Regions from separate parts of the Homo sapiens genome. Here regions 2 and 3 are each linked to region 1. Evidence: fine-mapped expression QTL. A gene starts in region 1. Each other region holds a variant in brackets. All regions are shown on one strand. Distances are from middle to middle.

Evidence for each region. PIP is the estimated chance that this variant, and not a neighbour inherited with it, causes the effect.
Region 2: its variant is fine-mapped to the expression of LURAP1L in skeletal muscle (FUSION, PIP 0.95).
Region 3: its variant is fine-mapped to the expression of LURAP1L in spinal cord (GTEx, PIP above 0.99).

What each region holds. Positions count from the first base shown.
Region 1 is chr9:12,771,533-12,779,725 of GRCh38, forward strand. It overlaps LURAP1L (leucine rich adaptor protein 1 like), which reads left to right and starts at 3,488. Exons shown (of 2, transcript NM_203403.2): 1 at 3,488-4,495. The coding sequence starts at 4,184. All of the region lies in intron 2 of LURAP1L-AS1 (LURAP1L antisense RNA 1), which reads right to left.
Region 2 is chr9:12,704,578-12,712,770 of GRCh38, forward strand. It overlaps TYRP1 (tyrosinase related protein 1), which reads left to right. Exons shown (of 8, transcript NM_000550.3): 6 at 1-128; 7 at 3,420-3,566; 8 at 4,400-5,708. The coding sequence ends at 4,605. The region is part of intron 3 of LURAP1L-AS1 (LURAP1L antisense RNA 1); the gene reads right to left. Among named protein-coding and RNA genes, the nearest start is that of TYRP1, 15 kb to the left of the region's middle. The variant A/G (reference allele first, on the strand shown) is at 3,284.
Region 3 is chr9:12,672,230-12,680,422 of GRCh38, forward strand. No RefSeq gene overlaps it. Among named protein-coding and RNA genes, the nearest start is that of TYRP1, 17 kb to the right of the region's middle. RefSeq lists enhancers at 2,963-3,107, 2,983-3,127 and cis regulatory regions at 3,035, 3,055. The variant A/T (reference allele first, on the strand shown) is at 4,077.

The sequences.
Region 1 (8,193 bases):
GTACAAGTGGTTCAAGTTGGTAATAAGTAGATGATTTCACATAGTAAAACAGACCCAAGCCAGCTACAAAATTATAGGTAAATTAAATGACTCTATAAATAAGCATGATAAAACCTTAGTAACTTTAGCAGATATATAATTCCACTGTATATGGATAGGGTCAACATTCTTTAGCTTTGCTATAACATCTTCCTTGTTATGCATATAAACTGAACAAAAATATTTGTAGAAGCAGCAGCTCTACACATTTAAAAACAAACAATGAAAGAACCTGATACTTATTAAATAGTGACTTCCTAAAATTCTTAGGCATAATTTGAGGCTGTTGGCTGCTTGACATTATTCTGCACTGTGGGGAGTGGAGTCTCAGGTAAGAGACCCTGTCCTAGCCCTTGAGCTCTGTGACAGCAAGAGTTGGGAATGCTGCAAACTTGCAATCAGTGCCAGAAAGAAGGTGGAAGGTGTTTCTTCTTTTAACCACAATGCCAGCAACAGATTAAGGAGTGGTGTTACCCACACTACATGAAGCGTTGTTGAGTCTACTCTTGCTGTGAGTATTGTGTCTCAAATCAGGAAATGTTCTAAGTGTGGAATGTGTGAAGCGTGCATCACATCAGTCTGTTGTGACTGAGGCATTCTTTCAAAACCTGTCATCTGAGTCCAACAATGTTCCTATTTAATTAGCCACTAGTTTTTCTTTCTTTTTAATGATAAATAAGAGGCTCCCTTTCCTTCTCCGTGTACACAACATAGCTAGGGAAGAAACTCAGTCTCTTAAAGTCCTGCATAGTTTAACATTCATTCTTAGATTCTTTATGCATTTTGAATAGAAAAAAAAGGCAAATCCAGCTCATACATATGGTGGTCTTAAAAGGAAGCATATAATGAAGTATAAAAAATTACATCACAAATAAAAACAATACAATAACCATTTTTACAATTTTACTCTGCAATGTATTATTAGACTTGGAGAAACACTGCGAGTTTAGGTGGTTGTTGGCATGGCAAATGCTACTAATCAAAGAAACAGAGGTAGTTGGAGATGGACCAGAAAAGTAGGAGCAATGAGGGAGTGCTACTAAGAGTGATATGACTCAAGAATTTTTCCCTCTGTCTTTCTTAGTTCTCCCTATGTTCCCTCTCCCAGTTGTTGCTGAATTCACTGCTACCCCCAACCCCCATCCTGGACTCATTACTGCAAAGTCTTCTCAACTGATTCCCCAACTCAAGATGTAATTAGCTTCTCAGGCTAAGAGCAATTGGTAAAACATCTCACACATTTTTGTCCTTGTTGTTTGTGGGCATTTTTGTATGTTTATTGTTTTTATTTTTGTTTTTGTTTTTTGAGGCAGTTTCTCACTCTGTCTCAAAGACTAAAGGGCAGTGGCTTGATAATAGCTTACTGCAACCCCGAACCCCTGGACTCAAGCAATCTTCTGGCCTCACTCCCTCACCCCTAACCCCTTAGCTAAGACTACAAGTGCATGCCACCATGCTTGGCTAATTTTTAAATTTTTTGAAGAGGTGGGGTCTCGCTATATTGCCCAGGCTGACTCAGTTTCTTGAGAATCTTGAAAACAAACAAACAAAACACATGCTCAAGAACCAAAGTAAAAAAAAAAAGTTTTCAAATAGTTTGAGTAAGAAATGTCCTCAGATTAAACCACATAAAGCAGTTATGGTAGCATTAACAACAATCTATTATAGATCCATAAACATTCAATGATTTTAATATATTCTGAAAACTAGCTAAAGCATCATTCAAAATGTCTTCATTTTAAACTAAAATGTCAATAGGCATTTAACCGAAAAAAAATTTAAAGCTTGACATACTAAGCTTTCCTTCAAAAGTTTACATTTTTTTATATTTCACTGGAACAAAGTTACTTTGCATATACATCACACTTTTACTCTCAGAGGAGTTTCTCCTGCAGACTTCTTTAAAAAACTATATACATATATACATACATATACGTATATATTAAATTATCCTCAGCCTCAAATACTGATTTTGCAGTCTGTGATTCATAGCAGAAGAGGTGTCCCATTTTTCTATATTGACACACGATAATTTGACATTTGTTTTTTACTGACCAATTTCTAGCTAGATATTTCATCTATAAACTGCACTTAGCCAGCCTTATGCTGAACTTTGTAAGGGTTTTGTAATAATAAACTGTTCTTGACTGAAACACAAGCCTTTCATAATTACATGCCACAGTGCAATTCTTATGCAACGAGCTTGTGTTTTTCCAAATTTAGGACCAAGCATGTAGTTTTATCAGTTAGCTGGGATTTGGTCTTGTTTTCCCTTGATTCTGTAAGTGGTAGTTCTAACTTTGAAATGGGTCATCTAACTTATAACTATTTTCTTCATTTCTTTTTAAAAGGGAGAAATAGCATGCAAATTTCTGGCATGTTGATAGAAAGTTCAGCATTTTTTCCCTGACATGAAATATTTCATTTAGAATGCGTATGTTTCCTCTACGTATAAGGTTTCCTAGAGTCAGATATGATAAAAACAAACTCTGAGATGTATATACCTATGTTCCTACAAGTGTAAAACCTGAATGATGTCTCTGGAAATGGAGCCTCGGAGTGACCAGGAACACAAATACTTATATGTCACAGAAATAGAGGGGCACATACTTTGAAATATTTCAATGGAAATCAAAAATTGTAGTTTACTGGATTGAAATTAGTATCCTCTACTTAAACATTTTTGACACAAACTCAATGCTGATTCAGATCTGTAATCCATGTAGCTCATAATAACTTACTTGGTAGAAGTATTTCAGATTAATGAATTGTACAATTGTACAAATTAATAAATTGTACAATTGTTCAACTATACAATTAATTGTACAATTTGTATAGTTGAAAAAATCTATAAATTAATTTATAGATAAATTATCAAAGAAGACAACATTTTAAATAGTTATTCCCAATATTTTTTCTTCCATAATTAAAATAAAAGTAAGTATCTCAGCAATTGCTTGTTCTTAAAATTTCACTGCTATCTCAGCAGTCATGTAAGTTATTCTGGCTATTTAATTTTTCACTTTTGTTTGCATACTGTAACAGTTGGTAGGATAATTAATTTTGATTGTACATTTCCATTGAACTTTTGATGAAATTGTTTCACTCTTTTTATTAGAATAAAATTATTAGGAAAGTCTTCTAAAGAGAGGTTTTCTGTTTGTTTTTCCTTTGAGGAAGGTAGAGAGATGGGAAACGAAGACACCAAATATAAAGTCATTCCTCTATCTCTCATTTTAAAACCTGTTTTAAAGGTTGTAGCTAGTCAGGAAAACTGAAAAATCAACTGGTATTCCTAACTAAAGCAGGGCTTTGAAACTCTGCTACTAGCGACAGGGTTGGGAAAATTCCGGTTGCTCTTCTTGTCTGTGATATACGGTAGAAGGGTTGGTCCTGGTTTGGTCCACCTGCCAGCGGAGTTTAAAGTTTCCGAGGCTCAGAGGAACACAATGACTTGGATCAAACAGCCTAAATGGGAAGAAGGACATTTTTGCTGCATCAAGGAAGCCGTTAAACTCCTGCTAAGCTAACTAGCTCTTTTTTATGGGTCCATGCACACGACCGAACTCCTCTTTCACTGACCAGAGATTATTTCTGACAACCCAGGATATCCCGAAAGCTTGGAGGCATATGGCTGGAAAATGAAACGACCCAGGACATCGTTTCTGGCTGCATCATTATTTTGTGTCGCGTAGTACCAGATGGGCAGTCAGTGAGCGGCGCAGGGATGTGAACGGACGGTTTTATAATGTGAAAATTTTCCCTTGGTAAAGCTAAAACAGATTTAATTTCCCTCTCTTTTCTTTCACTACTTCCCCCTCTTTATTCCCCCTCTGTCTGCAATATCAGTGAACTCAACTTTGCAGTGAGGTGGCCAAAAAGAGAGAGAATGAGGAGATCTTGATCATCTTAGTGTCGGAGGAGTCGCAGCGGACTGGGAACTGCAGCTGCGACCCCCCGCGTCCTGTGCGGATTTCAGGGCTGATACCGCATAGGCGGTTATGGAAAGGACGGTACACCGGAGCGGCGGAGGATAGAGACCCTGGCCCCCGGAGAGGTCTGCTGATTTCGCAGCAGCCTTCGAAGCCGTGGCTGCCTTTCATCTGCTGCGTTTTATTACTATTATCGCCGTTCCGGAAAAGTCATGGAAGACAGCCCGCTGCCAGACCTCAGAGACATCGAGCTGAAGCTGGGGCGCAAAGTACCCGAGAGTCTAGTGCGCTCTCTCCGTGGGGAGGAGCCGGTTCCCAGGGAAAGGGACAGGGACCCCTGCGGGGGGAGCGGTGGTGGTGGCGGCGGCGGCGGCGGCTGCAGTAGCAGCAGCAGCTACTGCAGCTTCCCTCCCTCCTTGTCGTCCTCCTCTTCGTCCTCCCCAACCTCTGGCTCCCCACGAGGTAGCCACTCTAGCGCCCTGGAGAGGCTAGAAACCAAGCTTCACCTCCTCAGGCAAGAGATGGTGAGTGTGGTGCGCCAGCCGCGGGGGCTGGGACCTGGGCTGGGCCAAAAGATGGGGCGATCTGAGAATGGGGCTGGGAGAGAGGACGGCAGGGGCTGCAGAGCGGAGCGCTGGGCGCGTGGGAAATGCTGGGTGGAGGAATGAGCAGGGGGCGCTCATCCGGAGGCAGCTGCTGCGAGGCTTGTTTACCGCGGACTTTGCTCGGTCACGGTTTGCAAAGACAGCACAGTCGGCTGGCTCCACTCTGTGTACTTTCGGACAACGCGACTCACTGCGCCGGGCTCTATTTAGCTGCCAGCCCGTAGCCTCTTAGGCACCAGCCCGTTGAGAGTTTGCAGTTATTGCACCCATCTAAGGCCTGCTGTGCGCTGTTAACACTTCGGGTAGGTTCAAAAGGTGGCTCAGTCCAATGCACTTACTGCAAAAATACTTCCTGGTTTGCCGGGAGGTGGCGTGGCAGGGTCCTTGCAGCCTTTCCTCCTAGCTCACCCTTCCACCAGTACCGCTCCGCCCTCCTGCCCTCCCTTCTTGGTGCAGCAGCCGCAGCTGTTCCAAGGCCACTGTCGAGCAGATTCTCCACAGCTGGTTCTGAAAACAATGGCCTACTCGTCCTTGATGTACTTATGAATAGCTTGTTTCACTATTTTGATCCCAGGGAGCAGGTGATCCCCAGGCCCAGGGATCTGCTAAGGACCATCTCCCACCCTTCTCCCTCAAGTCTCAATCTGCAGTTGTTTTCCCTGCTGTTTGCAAACGTTTGCCTGAGCATAGGACAATGAGATAAGTACAAGGTCTAGGAATACTCATTCTGGAAGTATTTAGACTAAGACACTATTTACTTGCCATGAGCTCTTGGGCACGTCACTTCACTTCTGTAGACCTCTGTGAATTTGATGAGCTGGTTAGAGAAAATGATCCCTCCCTAAGTCCTTTGAAAAAAACGACCACAAAGCAACAGCATTTTCTACTAGCTTGGAGATAAGGAAAGTTGCAACAGTGGGCCTCAAAAAGAGAAAATAATTTCATTAAATTAACTTCACAGTTGCTTTTGATTTGCTTCAAAGTAGGCTAGGAGATTTCTATCACTCCGACAGGAATGCTGGAAATTATTTCTATCATTCTATCGTTTAGTTATTATAGAGTTCTATCATTTAGTGATTGTTATTTTTTAGGTTGGACAAAAATTTAAGGACAACCCTTAGGTACATAATGGAGAAGCTGGAAAGTGGAAGTCATCTTGATGAGTTTGCAAAATAGATGAAAAGATAAAATGGAAAAGATGACAAACCAACAGGTCAGGGGATGCCTGATACCGTATCACAAAGATCAGACATACGTGTGGAGACTAACAGGTAAAACTATTTTCCACAAGAAAATTTCTTGTACAAGGAATTAAGAATGTTGCTAACTCTGCAAATTAAGGACTTAATATGAGGGACGAAGACATCAAGGAGATGAGGAAATTTTATTCCTAACCATGTCTTCTGTAATTTTACCCATGGAATGTTAATATATTCACTTAATCTAATAAATAAATCTTGTTGAAACATATTTTCTTTCTCAGTAGCTCACTGATAGCACATCAAAGATAATACTGTCATTTTGCTGGACACTCAGACACAATTTAGAGTATTTATATATAACTTGAAAACAGTAACATTTCCAAAAACCGATGAACCCCACCCTGTCCCAAGGAATGATTGGTATGTATGTGAAGATCATTTTCTGACAAAAATAATTACGTTCCACTTAGGATGCACAACCATGTTGTCCTGTAGAGAAGTCACAAGTTTTGTGAGAATTTTTAAACTGATGATGTTTATTTCCATGGTAACGTGAGTATACATTTTACCTTCTATTGTAGTGATGAATCACAATTAGTTTTTTTTTATAGGTTGGTGGAAAAGTAATTGCTGTTTTGCCATTGCTTTTAATGGCAACCACAACTACTTTTGCACCAACCTAATATTTATTAAGACTTTACTTTTTTGAGACACAATTTCTGAAACTGGGATTTATGTTGAGAGTCTCTAAGGTCCCTGATAATTTGTCGCATTTGTTGTTGTTTTTTGGAGAATATTTCATCACTACTCAAATGATGGTCCTCTGGTCTGGTGGAAGCTTCGTAAGCTTTGAAGCCAGATAAACCAGGGTTTCAGACAAGTCTAGAGCAAGTCAGGATATCAATAAGACCCAATAGGATGTAGGGCTGCCTGTCTAGGGAGACATTTAGCTTATCTTCCCCGGCAAAAAGGCTTGTCCCGCTCTCTGTGGCCCTCATTCTAGTCATGGCTTTTTCACTCACTAGTGTGTGGCACTGAACAAGTTATAGAACCACTTTGAGACTCAGCTTTCTTGTTAACATAGGAATAAGAGCATCTCCATTAAGGCATTTTAAGAATTCAGTGAAATAATATAAGAAAAACAACTATTACATAGATATTCAAAAACAGTAAGGATGCTGGCAGTAATGAGCATTACATCAATGACATGGGTTCCGTTGATCTTACAAAAGCAGCCCTACATGGATAATGTGGATTTGGGACTGATGAAGGCCTAGATATCTTCTCCACCAGACTGACTCTATCATGTCATCTCCCATGTCATCAGATACTCTCTGTAGAGACGATGTTTCCAAACAAACTAACGCACAAAATATGTGTAGGTTTCCCTAGCTTCAGTTCAACTGGAAATCTTGATTTTTATTTTAAATTTAACTTTTATTAAACACATGCTATGTGCTAAGCATGCTGCTGATTGAAGTAGCATGTATGAAAGAATTGTAGAGCCTAATGTCAGGTAGTCCAGGAAATCTGAGGAACTTAAACCAATACAGTAGCCCACCTTATCCATGGGAGATATGTTCCAAGACCTCCAATGGATGCTTGAAACTGTGGATAGTACCAAAGCCTATATAGACTGTTTAGTCCTATGCGTACGTACCTATTGTAAAGTTTAATTTATAAATCAGTCACAGTAAGAGATTAACAATAATAACTAACAATAAAATAAAACAGTGTATTGCTATGTGAATGTCTCTCTCTCTCTTTCTCTCTCATTCTCTCTCTCTCAAAATACTATAATATTTTCAGACTGCAGTTGACTGTAGGTAACTAAAAGCAAAGCCATAGATAAGGGTGTACTACTACATTTGGTTACTTTGGTGAGACTTTACTATGTGTAAGACACGGTGCTAGTTAAACATTTTATATGTATTATCCCGTTGAAATCTTATAATCTTTTTTTTTTTTTTTTTTTTTTTTTTGAGACGGAGTCTCGCCCTATCGCCCAGGCTGGAATGCAGTGGAGCGATCTCGGCTCACTGCAAGCTCCGCCTCCCAGGTTCAGGCCATTCTCCTGCCTCAGCCTCCCAAGTAGCTGGGACTACAGGCACCTGCAACCACGCCCGGCTAATTTTTTGTATTTTTAGTAGAGACAGGGTTTCACCGTGTTAGCTAGGATGGTCTCTATCTCCTGACCTCGTGATCCGCCACGGCCTCTCAAAGTGCTGGGATTACAGGCGTGAGCCACCGTGTACGGCCGAAACTTTATAATCTTTTAACTAAATGTAATTGTCACCATAATCTTATAGACAAAGCATTGAGGTTTATTGAGCTAATGCTGAAGGTAGTAAGTGGAGGAGCCAGGATGAGGTCAGAATCTGAGATTTTAACCATGCCTATGCTGTCACTTCTTAC
Region 2 (8,193 bases), 67 kb before region 1:
TTTGGCTCATCTATTCCTGAATGGAACAGGGGGACAAACCCATTTGTCTCCAAATGATCCTATTTTTGTCCTCCTGCACACCTTCACAGATGCAGTCTTTGATGAATGGCTGAGGAGATACAATGCTGGTAAGACATTTTCATATGCCTTTTGCATGCTCAGCTGGGCGGATTGTTTAGATGGCATAGTTATCAGTTCAAGCTGAGCACTCAGCGCATAAAAACACTTTCAAAATAAGGATAGCATAGCTGTAATATCAAGTCACTTCCAGACATTCAATTCTACTTTGAAAATGCAGGCAAGAAGTCTCTCCAAATAGTTATTATAGGATGATATTTTTAACCATTTGCTGGGACTAACCAAATCATCTCTCCTAATTTTTGCTACGAAAAAATGGCTACTATGTTTCACAAATTGTTCTTACCCTCATCTTCCAACATAAATTCTCATTACTTTTAAATATAAATGAGGAAAACCTTATAGAGCTCTTCTTTGATATCCCAAAAGACTAAAAATTTTATACCCATAATCCACAGTTCTTATTTTTATTACTTAATGGCCCCTCACAAATAGAAATTGTGTTCCACTTGAAAAGTTAATGTTGGCTTTTATATCACACTATAGGAAATCTCTTTTAAGTTCATTTCAATGCATTCTTTAAAATACTATTTAAAAGGCCTCTTTCTCTGCCTTCCTATGCAGCTGAGAGGCTAGCATTATTTTTCAAACAATAAAAGTGCTTCCACTGGTTAAAACATCGCAAATTTTCATAGGTTGAAAGCATTCTAAATTTTGGCTTTTGTGCCTTTAGCTCATAACGCACATAAACCTGATATTGTAGCTTAACTACCTATTGATTTATGTATCCATTAGGCATGCTTTCATTTCTATGTGTGTATGTGTGCAATAACGTCCTCTAATCCAACCTAATTAGGACCATTAATTGATGAAATTGATGAAAATAGTTTGTTCCATCAAAAATTATTTAAGAAACAACTTACACATAAGCCTGTAATCGCAGCACTTTGGGAAGCCGAGATGTGGGGATCACTTGAGCCCAAGAGTTTGAGACCAGCCTGGTCAACATGGTGAAACCCCGTCTCTACTAAAAATACAAAAATTAGCCAGGCATGGTCATGGGCACCTGTAATCCCACCTACTGGGGAGGCTGAGGCAGGAGAATCACTTGACCCTAGGAGGTAGAGGTTGCAGTTAGCCAAGATCACACCACTGCACTCTAGCCTGGCTGACAGAGACAGAGTTAGTTTTCAATCAGTTATGAATTCAGTTATTGCAGTTTCATCTCATTTTCATGTGTATTTATATACATAATGACAACCATAAATCTATAATTTACACTGTCAGCTTTTTTAAAAGTGAAACAATAAATGAGTGACTTTTGAAATACAATATGAGGGCAAATATTTTAGCCATACACCTTTAACAAATCTTTCCAAAATGTTCAATTTACATACTATAAAAACAACATCCTTCTCTTTGTTTTACAGTCATGATGACCACTTTATGTTTGTTTAACTAGATTACTTTTATTACAGTAATGAGTAAACTCAAATTAATAGGTTTAGGAATTAACAAAACCAGCTTTTGTTAAACATGCACTTCTGGGAACTACATGGCAATGTTCAAGTTGTATTTATTCAGTTATTCACAATGCCGTGGGTGTTAGTAAACTTTTTAGAGGAAATGGAGACTATTCAGTAACCTGGCAAGTCTCTTAAGTGGAGTTTTCTTTCACCTATGAAAGAAAGGAAAGATATTCCTTCACCTTGTGTATCTTGGCTGAAAATATAATTATTTCACATTGATAGCAAGTTGTTAAAGGTTCTCCAGATTTTAACTTAAAGGTCATTGATGAACCAGAAAAATACCTTTTGAACATTTTTTTCTGACATTTTCTTTGTTTGCAATATGTGTAGCATAAGGTTTCTCAGTAACTTGAATTGTAGTGGGAAGAGAAATACCGTAAATAAAAAATAGGAAACTACCCTGCAGCACATTTCTGATAAAATGTGGCCATAAAATTATAGGATAGGTCAATGTAAACACTTGCAAACTGCATGAAAGCTAAGCTGAAACAATTAGCCTCCTTCTTAAATATTCCTTGTACCTGCAAATACGTTTTAGAAATCAGTGTCATAAAACAACTGTGAAGAAGAGAAAGAAAAATTAGAAAGATTAAAAAAATTTATAAAACTGTCTGTAAAGCAAGAGTCTTGTTTAAAATAAGTCTAGGAGTGGAGGGATGGAATTCTTTTTCAAAATGATTGAAAGGTTTTTACAAATATAGAAAGCTCTTTACAAATTGCAGAATAATAGAATTATTAGGCTTGGAAAGGAACAAAAATTACACTTTACAGATAAAGAAAAGTGGAGTCATTCAAATATTAATGTCCATTACAGGTTCCTTTCATTAGACATGAAATAGTACAATTGAGAGCATCCAAACTCTAGTTACTACCATGTTAATTTCTATTTACTAACATTTCTGATCTATATACACATTCAATTCAATTCCTTCTCTTTTATTTCAACTGAGAATTATATGAATTAAGTTTTAAATATAGCAGCCCAGAAGTTCAGTGTATTTTCAGAAGAAGCAGTTTATACGTTTCCAAGAGTGATCACTACTTTACTTTTTGAGCTGTGAGAGAAATGAAGTAATCACACGTACACTTAAGTCTTTTCATATATATTATTTTCAAATCTACTATTTCCTGGTCAGTATTCAAGGTACCAGAAATACGATGCTATACAAAATTCACCAACAAATTTTCTTCCTGAAACTTTTCTTCCTGTTGATAAAATTGACAATAACCATATGTAAATACATATACAGCATGTTAGATGGTGGAAGTCTCTATAGACAAATAAAATCAGGAAATAGGATAGGCAGTACTGTGTAGATATATGGAAGAAGAATGTCCTAAGACAAAGGAACAGGGAGCCAACTGTGGCTGGAGTAGAGTGGGGTCTGGGGAGAGAGTGGTGAGAGATAGTAAGGTCAAAGGGATAACAGGAGGCAGAGCTGTATGCCACAGCAAATTACAGGTTTATGTTTTCTTTGGCTTTGAAAAATACATTTAATGAATTTTATTCAAATTGCTTTATGTAATTTTTAAAAATTATTCAAGATCACCATAGGTGATGAAATACTAAAACTCCCCTGCTTTTAAACTCTCTTTTTTATTAAGTGGTATATTGGTACTGTATTCAAAGCATTTTCTGTTTTATGTAATTTCTCATCCTGCTGTAGTGAAACTTC[A/G]TATCTTTATTCAGTGTAAAATAAGAATAAAATTTTTTCAGGTTCTCCTTGAATATTGGATGCCTTTAGAACTCAATAATGATAGGAATATTAATTTTATTATGTTTATTAATACGTTGTCTTTGGAATAATTTAGATATATCCACATTTCCATTGGAAAATGCCCCTATTGGACATAATAGACAATACAACATGGTGCCATTCTGGCCCCCAGTCACCAACACAGAAATGTTTGTTACTGCTCCAGACAACCTGGGATACACTTATGAAATTCAATGGCCAAGTGAGTGTTGAAAGTGTATTTTTACTGTGATAATTTCCAAAAGCAAATGTGTTATCTTTCAAGTAGAGTAATCACGGTATTCTGAAGCTATGTTTTCCATTTGGACTTGGAAACTTTCATTTGTACTTTTATTTGAGGATAAGGGAAGGAATTTGATATTTGTTGAGAGTCCACACTAAGCTGATATTGATCTTATTGTACAGCACCCTATCTCATTTAATCCTCACAATGCTTTGGGGTGAGTATGAAAATCTTCATTTCACAAATAAGGAAGCTGAGGCTTAAATAGGTTAACTGTTACAGATTCACATTTCTAATGAGGGAAGAGAATGAGTTTGAGCTTAGGCCCATGGAATATGCCCCAATTTTTCTACTATACCATATTGCCTGCATTTATCTATCTTAAAGGAAAAGGGAGTGAGATACTCTTAGGTATTTTTCTGAGATTTTGAAGTTCAAAAGTTTTTTGTTTAAATCTTTTCCCCAACAAAGGCAGTAGGGCATAGTGGAAAAGTACAAGACTTATATTCTAAAATATCCGGGCTCCAAAGCCAACTTTATTGCTTACCAACCAAGTGACCTGGGTAAGTGACTCAGACTCATTGAGTCATCATTCTCTCACTTTCACAAAATGAAATGGAAATAACAATGACTATCCCAATAGGGTCCACTCATTAAAAGAAATCAGGAAGTGGCTTCAAGGCCATGTGGCCAATGTAAATTAAATATGAGGATTTCTGTTAAAATAGACATTTCTAAATTTCATCTGTCCACTTTTTGGTGATAACTATTTTAATATTTGTCTTTTTATTTTTATCTTCCTTTCCAAATAGGTCGGGAGTTTAGTGTACCTGAGATAATTGCCATAGCAGTAGTTGGCGCTTTGTTACTGGTTGCACTCATTTTTGGGACTGCTTCTTATCTGATTCGTGCCAGACGCAGTATGGATGAAGCTAACCAGCCTCTCCTCACTGATCAGTATCAATGCTATGCTGAAGAATATGAAAAACTCCAGAATCCTAATCAGTCTGTGGTCTAACAAATGCCCTACTCTCTTATGCATTAGTATCACAAAACCACCTGGTTGAATATAATAGATTGAGTTATTAACTGTATTTTCTTTCACTTTATTACCTTCTTTCTAATACAAGCATATGTTAGCATTAAAGTTCTAGGCATACTTTTCAAAGCTGGGAAGACCCTTTCAGAATCTTTTCAATGGGTTTTAATTTTCAGTTCTATTTAAAATGGTGAATGACACTAAACTCCATGATATTTAAGGATAGTGTGAAGATCTTTGGCATGATTTAAAGGTTGAGTATGTGAAGATATAAGTAAGTGAACTACCATGCTTTGTTTACGTGTAAAGGAAAATAATGTTTGATAGTAAATGTCCACTTAAAATACATGAATGGGCATTTCTAAAATGTTAAAACATAAACACATTTCCATTCATGGATATTTGTCAACAGATTTAAAGAAAACCACAGTTATTAATTAAAGAAAATTAATTATGTGTAGTTATAAACCAATGAAATTTTGATTAACCTTTTCAAATTAATGTTCCAGTTTGAAGACCAATCAAATATATTATTTAGTCAACATATACTATTTAGTCTCAGGTTCAAGGCTACAACAAAAATCACCATCTTTGTCAAACTTTGGAGAGGGAAAATCTTCACTTTCTTAAGCAACAATGGATATTGCCTGTGTTTGCCACTGTGTTTCCCTGCCTCTCAATTCGCTGAAAAAGGAACTACCTATCCTTACATTTCACCTACTAATGTCTCTTCTAACATCTTAGAGGTCCATGGAGAAGGCATATGGAGAACATGTTTTATACTGCTCTATAAATAGTATTCCAATCACTGTGCTTAATTTAAATAGCATTATCTTATCATTTATCAGCCTTTTATGTATTTTCCAAGTAAAATATTAACATATTATTTCATTGGTCTTCTTTTTTATCTGGTTCTATATGAATGCTATTTTTTCCCTTCTCTTCTAACATGAAATATATTTTCTCTTTTTGATCTTGTGCTATGAAACAATCTTCCAAAGAACTGTATAAGGTGGTCATAAGTGAATATTTTAATTAAAATTGGTAAAAATAAATAATAACAGTAATAATCATGCACTATAGAAAATGGCTAAACTGAGATTCTAAATTCTACAAACAGAAACAAGTTTAAGTTATGTATCCCTGATTGGTTACTGGGTTTTCCTATATTCAAAAATATTAAGGCTATATATACACAAGATAAACAAATAAAATATATCAAAGAGCATGCATATAACAATAGGATGTTTTACACTAGCATTATTCAATTTATTCTCTTGGAATACATTGCGATTTGTTAAAATACAGTATACTCACAGCTTTTCAAAGAAATTACTGTGTAATGTAAGATGCCTTTTTATATAGAACATCAATGAAACTAAATACTTCACTTTATATTTTTGTAGACTTACTAATTACTCATTTCAGAAACATTTATTAAGCACATACTAGATATCAAGTATTTCAAGGCACTATAGATTTAGAGAGAAGAAAATAAGAATTGTAAAATTGAGAAGGTCATGTTTGACTTGTACTTCAAGGACTGCCAATGGATTTACCAAATATAGAAGCAGAGAAGGGAATTTTATTCAAAAGTGACAGCATGGACAAGGGCACAGAAGTTTAAAAGAGCATGGAACTTTTTAAAATATAAAATAGGTCAGTGTGATTACAGTATAGTTTTTATGGAGGGGAGTAAAAAGATAAATTGGAAATAAAACCAGAGTGTCCTATATGCAATTCTTAATACTTGGAATTAATTCCATGGGAAATAGGAAACAGGGAGAGTCATAATCAAGCTGTATATTTATAAATATAGTAGTGATGGTGCTGTTCACAAATAACGTTGATGAGAAATAATTTGGAATGGTTAAAAGCAAAGAAACTCATTAATATGGAATAGATTGTGGGAGAGAGGAGAAAGCCTTGTTTCAAAGCATTAATTCTAAATAATCATAATTATAAGATAAAGTTGTACACATCTATAAATAAATAAATACAGCTTATATTATAAATACTATATAATATTGAAATTATAAGTATAATATAAATATAGCTTTAAGTAAATCATTACAAAAATGTCAGTTAACAATGGAAGACTGTGAGAGAGAGGATTAAAACAAGAGCAAAACAGAAAACTATTAACAAAATGGCAGTTAGTAAGTCCTCAGCAATCAGTAATTATTTTAATGTAAATGGCTTAATATCCCAAATAAGAATGCTTAAAGTAGCTGAGTGAATCAAAAAACATGATCCAGTGACTTGCTGTCTATAAGAGACTCACTTTAGATTTAAAAATACATATAGGCTGGAAGTAAAGAGATGGAAAAGGATATTATGAAAATGGTAAAAAGAAAAAAAAAAGAAAGCAGGGGAGGCTATCCTATCAGACAAAATAGACAAAGTCAAAAACTTCCTCTAGAGGTGAAGTTCATTATATAATAATAAAAGGGTCAATTTAACAAGATATAACAATTGTAAATATATACATATTCAATATCAGAGCACTTAAATATACAAAGCAAATGTTGATAGATCTGAAAGGAGAAATTGATATCAATACAATACTAGTAGTAGAATCTAATATTCCACTTTCAATAATGTATAAAACATCCAGGTAGGAGATCTATAAAGAAAGAGAGTACTTGAACAACACTGTACACCAGTTGGACTTTAGGGACATATACATTACATACCACTCAACAGCAGCAGAATATTCTTATACTTCAGCAACATGTTCTTCTCAAACACAGGTGGAACATACTCCAGGATAAATTACATCAGACCTCAAAACAAGTCCCCCCAACATTAAAAAGATAAAAGTCATTTCAAAGATCTTTTAAGATCACAATTGAGTAAAATTAGAAATCAATAGTGCAAGAAAGTGGGAAATTCACAATGACGAAAAAACAATACACTCTTAAATAACCATTGGGTCAATTAGGAAATCATAGAGGAATTTAAATTATATCTCAAGGCAAGTGAAAACAAAAACACAACATATCAAAACTTACAAGATCCAGCAAAAGTACTAAAAAGGAATTTTGTAGCAATAAATGCCTACGTTGAAATCTAAGGATCTCAAATGAACAACCTAGCTTATACCTCAAAGAACTAGAAAAAGAACAACAAACTAAGCCCAAAGTTAGCAGAAAGAAATAAATAATGAAAATTAGAGTAGAAATAAGTACAGAATAATAAAACAAGAGAAAATTCAGAAAATTAAGGGTTTTTTTTAAAAAAATAAAAAAATGGACAAACCCTTAGCTAAACTAAGAAGAGGAGAGGACTCAAAATCAGAAATGATAGAGGAAGCATTAAAATGTGTTCCTAAGAAACAAAAGGATCAGAAGAAACTTTTATAAACAATTATATGCCAACAATTGGATAACTTATAAGAAATGGATAAATTCCTAGAAACATACAACATACTAAGACTGATTTCAGAAGAAACAGAAAGCCTGAACATAACAATAACAAACAAGAAAACTGTTGCATAAGCACCCATTTCTTGTTGCATAAGCACCCATTGCATGTGAGTGCTGCAAATTGATCTAAGCTTTATAG
Region 3 (8,193 bases), 99 kb before region 1:
CAATATAAATCTAAAATTTTGAACGATTATATTTATACTTTCCTGGCACTAAACATGCATGTGTATTGCAGGAAAATGTATAAAATAGAAACATGGTTTAGGAAACTGTAAAACTATCACTTCAATACTTAATACTTTTATTTTTCTGTACACCTTATTACTTAAATGTAAATAACAGATTTTTAAAACCTGAGATCTCATTCCATATAAAATCTGTATCATGTTTTCATGTAGCTTGATGTTTTAACTATTCTTACATCAATCTTCACAAGCATAATTATTAATATTTTCATATTCTCCCAATTCATTTAACAAATAGTTATTCAAGGCATACTCTGTCCATTCTAGATTCAGCTGATAGAGCTGAGATTAGGGCAGACGAAGTCACTTGCTCTCAGGGAACTTGCAGTGGCTCTTATGGTTTTACCATAATTAATTCACTATTTTTGAAACTATGTTTATTATTTATCACTAGCATGAAAAAATGCAATGGAAGTCTTATATAATTATGTGACATATACTTGATTATGTTATATGTACTTGACAACTGAATATAGTGTCCTTGAAATAAGTCATTTTATGTGCAGTTTAATGTTTTTGATATATACTGCAAAATTACTTTTAAGAAGAATTTTATAAATATTCACATGCCTGTCTGCTCTGTATGAAGGTGGACAGCATTACACACTGAAGGCTTTATTTTTTTAAAGGCTTTACCAATGTTGCAGTCAAAAAGTAACATCTAAAATTATCTTTATTGATTATGAGATTGCATAGATTTTCTTAAATTCATTGGTAAACTCTATTTATTCAACCTGTCTTTGCAAAAATTTTTCCTATTAGTCAATTGATAGTATCTCTCATGGATTTGTAAGTGCAATTTGTGTGCTTTTGTCTGTAATTTTTATAAATAATTTCCCTTTAATAAAAAGGCTTTGTATTGGAAAAGTGTTTGCCTATTTATGTCAAATATTCACCTCTTTTTTAATATTTACATTTTACATGAACTATTTTAATCTACTTTTCTTATCAATATAATAAACAAAATAAATATCTAACTTGATTTTCTTCTATATTGTTACCATCAACGCAGGAGCAGCATCAAAAACTTATCTCTAATGTTACTGTAGATATATATATATTTTTTCTATTTCCTGTCTCATTGCATTAGGTAGAACTTCTAAAACAATGTTCATAGTAGCGGTTATCCATGCTGGCCTCATCTTAATTTTAATAAAAATTACTGAAATGTTTCACTTTTAACTACAGTGGTAGCTGTTGACTTAAATATGCAGTTTTTACTGAAGTTAAAGAAAAATTCTGTTCTAAGCTCGAGTATATTTTTACCAAAAACAGGTATTAGATTTTCCTAAATGTCTTTTTAAGCATTTACTAAGAACTCCACAATACCTCTTACTTTTACTTATTGATAGAATATATTAATCATTTTCCTAAAATTAAATTCCCATTTGCATATACTAAATGAATTATTTATTAAAATTTATGTAGTTCAATATGCTGCTGGAATTTATTTGCTGCTATTTTATTTTGGATGTTTTTGTACCTATATTCCTACATGAGATGGTTCTGTAGTTTTGTTTTTAAGTGCTATCTGTATGTGCTTTTGGGATTAGGGTTTTCAGAGTTTTATGAAATACATTTGGAAGAATTTAGCATTTTCCTGTGATCTACTGCAATTTAAAATGCTAATGGTCTTCATTGATCCTAATTACTGTGTGAACTTAAGTGCATCTTGCCATTTATAGATGGAAAATGTCTGAAACTATTTGTTATAATAGTGAAATTCTATGTGGCCTAGTTCCATGGTAGATAGAAAAGAATTGGGAGTAGGATTAACCTAATTTTTCTTACACATTCCTAAGAATCTTAAAGGCTATCAGAGTACTGAGATTTGTCATCAAATTGAGACGCAAAACATTATTTTGTATGGCACAGAGCTCAGTCTCAGAAAACTACGCTTACTGCAGTCATATATTTACGTAAAATTTTTTATTTACATTGAATAGAAGGTTTATCTGTAATGTATACCCAAACAGACATCAAATAAGACATAATTAACACAGTGTAGATTTTACACCTGCCTTTCCCTGCCAACATAATATTTGTTTTTATTATTTTATGTTTTTTTGTCACTGTCCTCAACATTGTAACACTTCCAGTCTAGAGTTATATACAGTGAATTTATTTTTCAGTTTTAAAAATAATGGTTTTACCATATTCGTTTTAAACAACTAATATGGGTTGTATATCTTATAGTTGTTCCTCAGCATTAATTAATCTCCAGAAGTTAAGGCTGTGAATATATAATTAATGAACAATGTGAAGGTGAGATGTCATTTAAGCAGTTGGCAGATTGTCTTTAAAATTAATAATCTGTTTCTCCAACTGTTTGCACTTATTTCAAGGTGCTACTTTCTTCTTGATGCCTTTTTTTCACTTTTTTCCTGTTTTATTGATATGTAATCTTTTGCACATTTATGAGGTGTACATGAGTGTTTGGTACATGCATAGAATATACAATGATCAAGCCAGGGTATCTAGGGTATCGATCACCTTGAGTGTTTATCATTTTTAAATGTTGGCATCATTTCAAGTCATCTGTTGCAGTTACTTTAAAATACACATAATATTGCTGCTAAGTATAGTACCCTAGTCTGCTGTCAAACATTAAAACGTATTTCTTTTAATTAACTGTATGTTTGTATCCATAACTAATGATCATCCCTAGTCTCTCCCACCCACCCTTCCCAGTCTCTGGTATTTATCATTCTATTCTCTATGTCCATGAGATCAAGTCACATGTGGAGGATAAAAAACTTAGTGACTTTAAGTCTTAAGTAACTATTCATGGGATAGGCTCTGATTGCGTGCCTGGCTATGGCATAAAAAACTTAATTAGAAAAGAGGAGACATGGTGCTCTTAAATTTATGAGAATACATTTTCAAAGTTTAAACTGGTGACTTTCAAACTTCTGAGGAAAGGAAAATACTGCCTTCTTTGTATCGAAAGTCATGGGTTGCTCGTACATATGCGTACGTACATGACTGATGTCACTTGGCTCAATGAACAATGCTAAGTTATCAAGCATCCATGAGAACTGCATTTGTGGAATTCATTCAGTTATTTTCGTTCGTATATATTTCTTTGGCATTTTCTCCAATTCTTAAAAAGTAGAATAGTTTTAATTTTCTTACATTGGAACTTCTCTAACTTGGTCAACATGATTAATTCCTTTTATGTCTTTTGAACCTCAGTTTCTTTATACGTAAAGAGGTTCAGCTGGATTAGATGTTCTCTGAGATCTGACCCCTGTGCAACATACTACAATTTGTAGTTAGAAGATATTGGCACTGCAGATCTCATTAAGGACCTGAATAAGACTTCAAGTTTATGTATTTGCCTGCATTTATATAGATATATATTTTACATAACTAATTCATTTAAAATCTCTATGAGTTTATTCATATGGAAAATAACAATAGTAAAAAAGACTACCTTCATAGAGTTGTGAGGAAATTAAATAACATTTATAAGCACTTTCACAGTACCCAGCCCATGATGAGTGCTCAATAAATGTTGTTATATTAATTTTTATTCTTCCTTGGCATCAGTGGCAATGTTTCTAATCAAGTACTAATATCATTAAGGGCAGTGTATTCTATCTTTTTTTAAAAAAGAAACTACAGTCATAATCTGAATCATTATTTTTTAGTTAAATTGTATTCATCTGTCATACAATTTCTCATGTGCACAATTTTCAGAAACATTTTAATGTTTCTGAACAATTCCTTATTTTAATCTCTACATCTTTATAGTAAAAATGTTAAGCATTGTGTGACCAATTTTGAATAAGTCATTTTGATACTCATGATTTTGTCTCGTAATAGCTAAAATAATGAGTGCTGAATTAGTTAAGTGGTTTTTCAGTGGGTTGATAGATTATTTAATGAGTTGGCATTAAGCAAACAATGTCCATATAGATAAGAAATTCTGTAAAATGCTCTAACTTTAGCTATTAAAATTATGTCAAATTTTCGAATAAAGAGATAGTGGC[A/T]TGCAAATCAAATTCACAGGTATCACAGAGCTGGATATAAATAGCAGGAAATTAATAGATTAGAATAATAAGGCACCTCATCATGCTATAAAAATTGACAACATTTAGCAACTAAAATATAAAAGGGAATAATCAAACACCAAAATCAGAAATATAAGGTAAAACAAGTTGATACAAGAGATCTCTCTAATCAACTGCATGAGTAAAGAATTAAGGATTAAATTTACCATAATCTCAATGGATGAGGAAGCTGTCAAAAAATACAACACAAGCTTAGGCTTTAGGTTAGTTGAAAAATATGCTATAGAAGAATGATGCTGGAATTCCCATATTATTCTTTGCTGGGAAGAACACATTTGAAGAATGGGATACACTTCTGGGTACTTCAATTTCAATACAACATTAACCAGTGGGAGAATGTTGGATGAATATCAACAGAATAGGAATATATCTGGAAATGGAATGATTTAAAAGCAGTGTGTGTGTGTGTGTGTGTGTGTGTGTGTGTGTGTGTACACATATACATATGTTTGTATATGTATTAATTACAAAATTACCATGGAGAAGAAAAATTAGAGTAACTGGATTGGGAAAGGTGACAGCCACAGTGTTGTCACAGTTGGGGCTGTTCTTATCATTTGTGATGCTATACATGACGTGATGGAGCAGAAGTCACTGAAAGGCTAAATGTGCTTGTATGGCAGAACATTAAAAGCTGCCCATAAAATGAGAAAAAAAAATCCCTGCTTCATTGCCTGGACCTGATGGGCTCAAATATTAGCTGGAGAACTATATAAGTAACTAATTTTTTAAAGAGTGCCTTGGAGATATTGTTGAGGACATTGTGAAATACAGTGTTTTTGTCCCAATATGAAGCCCCTTCAGAGAAATTTCTTTATTATTGTAGACAAGAAAGTTTTGATCTCCCATCAGGGGAACTTTTTGTTTTAATGGACAATAAAAAGTCTATAACATTATATTTCCCTTTTTACTTCTATTGTTTGAAAACAGAATTCACTCAGTCAGCGATTCAGTGAATATTTATCATATTTATTTATTATATTTTCCTATTATATTTCACAGACTATTCTAGGTACTGGCAATGCAATAGTGAAAATGATAGGTAAGGAACTTTCTCTGTGGAACATCCATTCTTGTGGGCATGGAGGGTGGAAAGAAAGATATAAAATAAGTAATGAAACACATGGGCAAAATATTTTCAGTAGAGAGAGATTTACAAAGATAATTAAATAAGTCAACATGATTGAAAGAATATACCATTTAAAGTAGGCATTAGTTGGGCGCGATGGCTCACGTCTGTAATCGCAGCACTTTGGGAGGCCGAGGCGGGTGGATCACCTGAAGTCAGGAGGTTGACTCCAGCCTGACCAATATGATGAAACCTCATCTCTACTAAAATTACAAAAATTAGCCAGGCGTGGTGGCGGGCACCTGTAGTCCCAGCTAGCTACTCGGGAGGCTGAAACAGGAGAATTCCTTGTACCCGGGAGGTGGAGGTTGCAGTGAGCCCAGATTGAGCCATTGCACTCCAGCCTGGGAGACAGAAAGAGACTCCATCTCAAATAAAATAAAATAAAATAAAATAAAATAAAATAAAATAAAATAAAATAAAATAAATAAAATAAAATAAAATAAAATAAAATAAAATAAAAAGTACGTATTAGAGTTGAGTCCTGACTAATTCAGACAACTGCCAAAGCTCAATATCAGAGCTTTAAAGCAAAGGGAACAGCAAGTACAAATGTCCTCAGGAAGGCAAGAACCTTGGCTGTTGGAAAATAGGAGAAGGAGGCTACAAAAGTGATTGGAGCTTGGTGAATAAACAGGGAGATCAGAGAGATGGGCAGGAATCAAGTGTGGGCCCCACTCATTAGGATTTTACTCCATGTGTAAAGGGAAGCCATTAGAGTATCTTTAACAGGGGACAGCATGATCTGTTTCTTAACTTTAAAATGATCAATCATTCTATAATACTGTGAACTCTTTAGAAGCCTATGATTTTCATATATGAGCATATGCATTCTTAGTTTCCCACATCTTAATCTTCTGATTTCTTTACTGTCTAGTCTTGTCAATTTATTATTTAAATATCAACATTTAGTGTTTATCTATATTCTTGAAAGCTGATTCAAATCTTATAAAAGAATGATGGACCATAAATCTTAAATTAAATGAATTATGATTTGTTGACATTTTTGATAAGGATTGACTTAAAAGGCAGAAACTTGGATTTTAAAAACCCTTTGAGCCTGATACTCTAAAGGTCTATTGTATCTAGCTTCATAAGGATACACTGACTTTTCTTTCTTGCCAGTAAATCAAACAGAATCTCTTCAGTTGGCTTCGGCTTTCAGAAACACAGTCTTTTTTAGGTTATTCCTACTGTTAGGGTGAAGATTCCCAAAGCCTGGTTGACTCAAATTAGAGAGAAGAAAGAAACAAAGAAAGAACAAACAAAACTATTATTTCAATAATATGTCAGACATTTAACAAATAATTGCTGTCTAAAAGCATCATCTTCTAAAAATTATCTGAACATTCTGGTAGCAAGTTACTGAGAAATAGCAAACATTGCTTCTCCAGTTTTCTTAATATCAAATTCCTTTTTATAAGAAATGTTATTGAGTTAAGAAGAAAATGTAAAATATGTATATAAAGATTTATATTATGACAAATTAATGGAGAAAGCCAAAAGAATACAGACTGCTTTTACAAGTGAGGAGCAGAAGGAATAAAACTGTCAATAGCTAAGACAATGAATGTAAAATCCTGATGCCCACAAGCTTCAGAGGAAATTAACTGCAATTTTGTGATTTCCACCCTCAGTGTCTGATTATATGACATACCAATATCTGTGGCTCTTTGAATGTTTCTCATTTTGGAATCTTCAAGGGACCTTCTGTAAATGGGCCAACCATGGTTTCCCACTAAAGATTAGAGAGAATTTAATTCTCCACAAACGCAGCTGCAGAAACTGCCTACTGTAACCTTAAGACCAGTTTTACGCAGTAGACACGGATATAACTTGCTGCAACTCTAGGACTAGTTTTACATAATGCCTGCTTCCAAAACCTTATTGGTGCCCATGAACTTTCTTTTAAAACAATATATAACATATTCCTTTCTGATAAAACTTCCAAACTCCTCTTTTTCCTTTGGACGTACTGAAGACCATTTCGTGTGTGTGTATGCTACAAATTGTGATTCTGTGATTTCCAACATAAAATGTTAACTTTAGATATTTATCTCTACATATTATTTTGACCTTGACATTGTGAACTAAGGAAGTTGGGTCAAGGAAAATCAAGTATTGCTTCTTTCTATAGTGGGAATGAAAAAAAAATAAAAAGAAATTAATTATCTGTGTTACAAATGATAGATGAAGGATATAATTTTAAATTCAATGTAAAGGCACACTCTATCATAAACAGATTTTGTAGTAAATTCCACCTCTACGCAAAAACCTTCCTGACCTAGTTAAAAAATAAAGTTTCAATCCCTCTCCTTAGCCTCTGTGTTTCCTTCCATCCCTGTGTTTCCTTCAAATCGCATATCACAACTTGTAATGTTTTTAATGTATATTTCTGTTTATTTAAATGTCAGGGTTTGGGATTTATATTTTTACTTGTTTCTCTCTCTCTCTCTGTGTGTGTGTGTGTGTATGTGTGTGTGTGCATGTATGTGTGTGTCTGCGCGTGTGCACGCGCATGTGTGTTTATCCTGATTCTTCAACTAGAATGCAAGCTTCTTGCAACCAGGGCCACTTTTGCATTGTACATATTTGTATTCCCTTTTTATTGTATTCACGGTGCCTGGCACATAGATGATCAATAATTTGTTACAGAAAATAATGATCCTATATCACTAATCAAAATCAATCATTCCATGCTCTATATTCTCATTGCTTTGGTTGTTTACCTCTCTTTTAGCAATTAATATTATGTGCCACTTTTTAATGATTTGAGCTCCTTGAGAGTAGGGACACATCTCATTCACCTTTGTGTGCTATTACATTAGCCAGTGCCATCCCCACAGATAGAGTTATTAAATGATAGCTGAAATGACAATAGAAGCTGCAGAAAGCTGCTTCCATTGC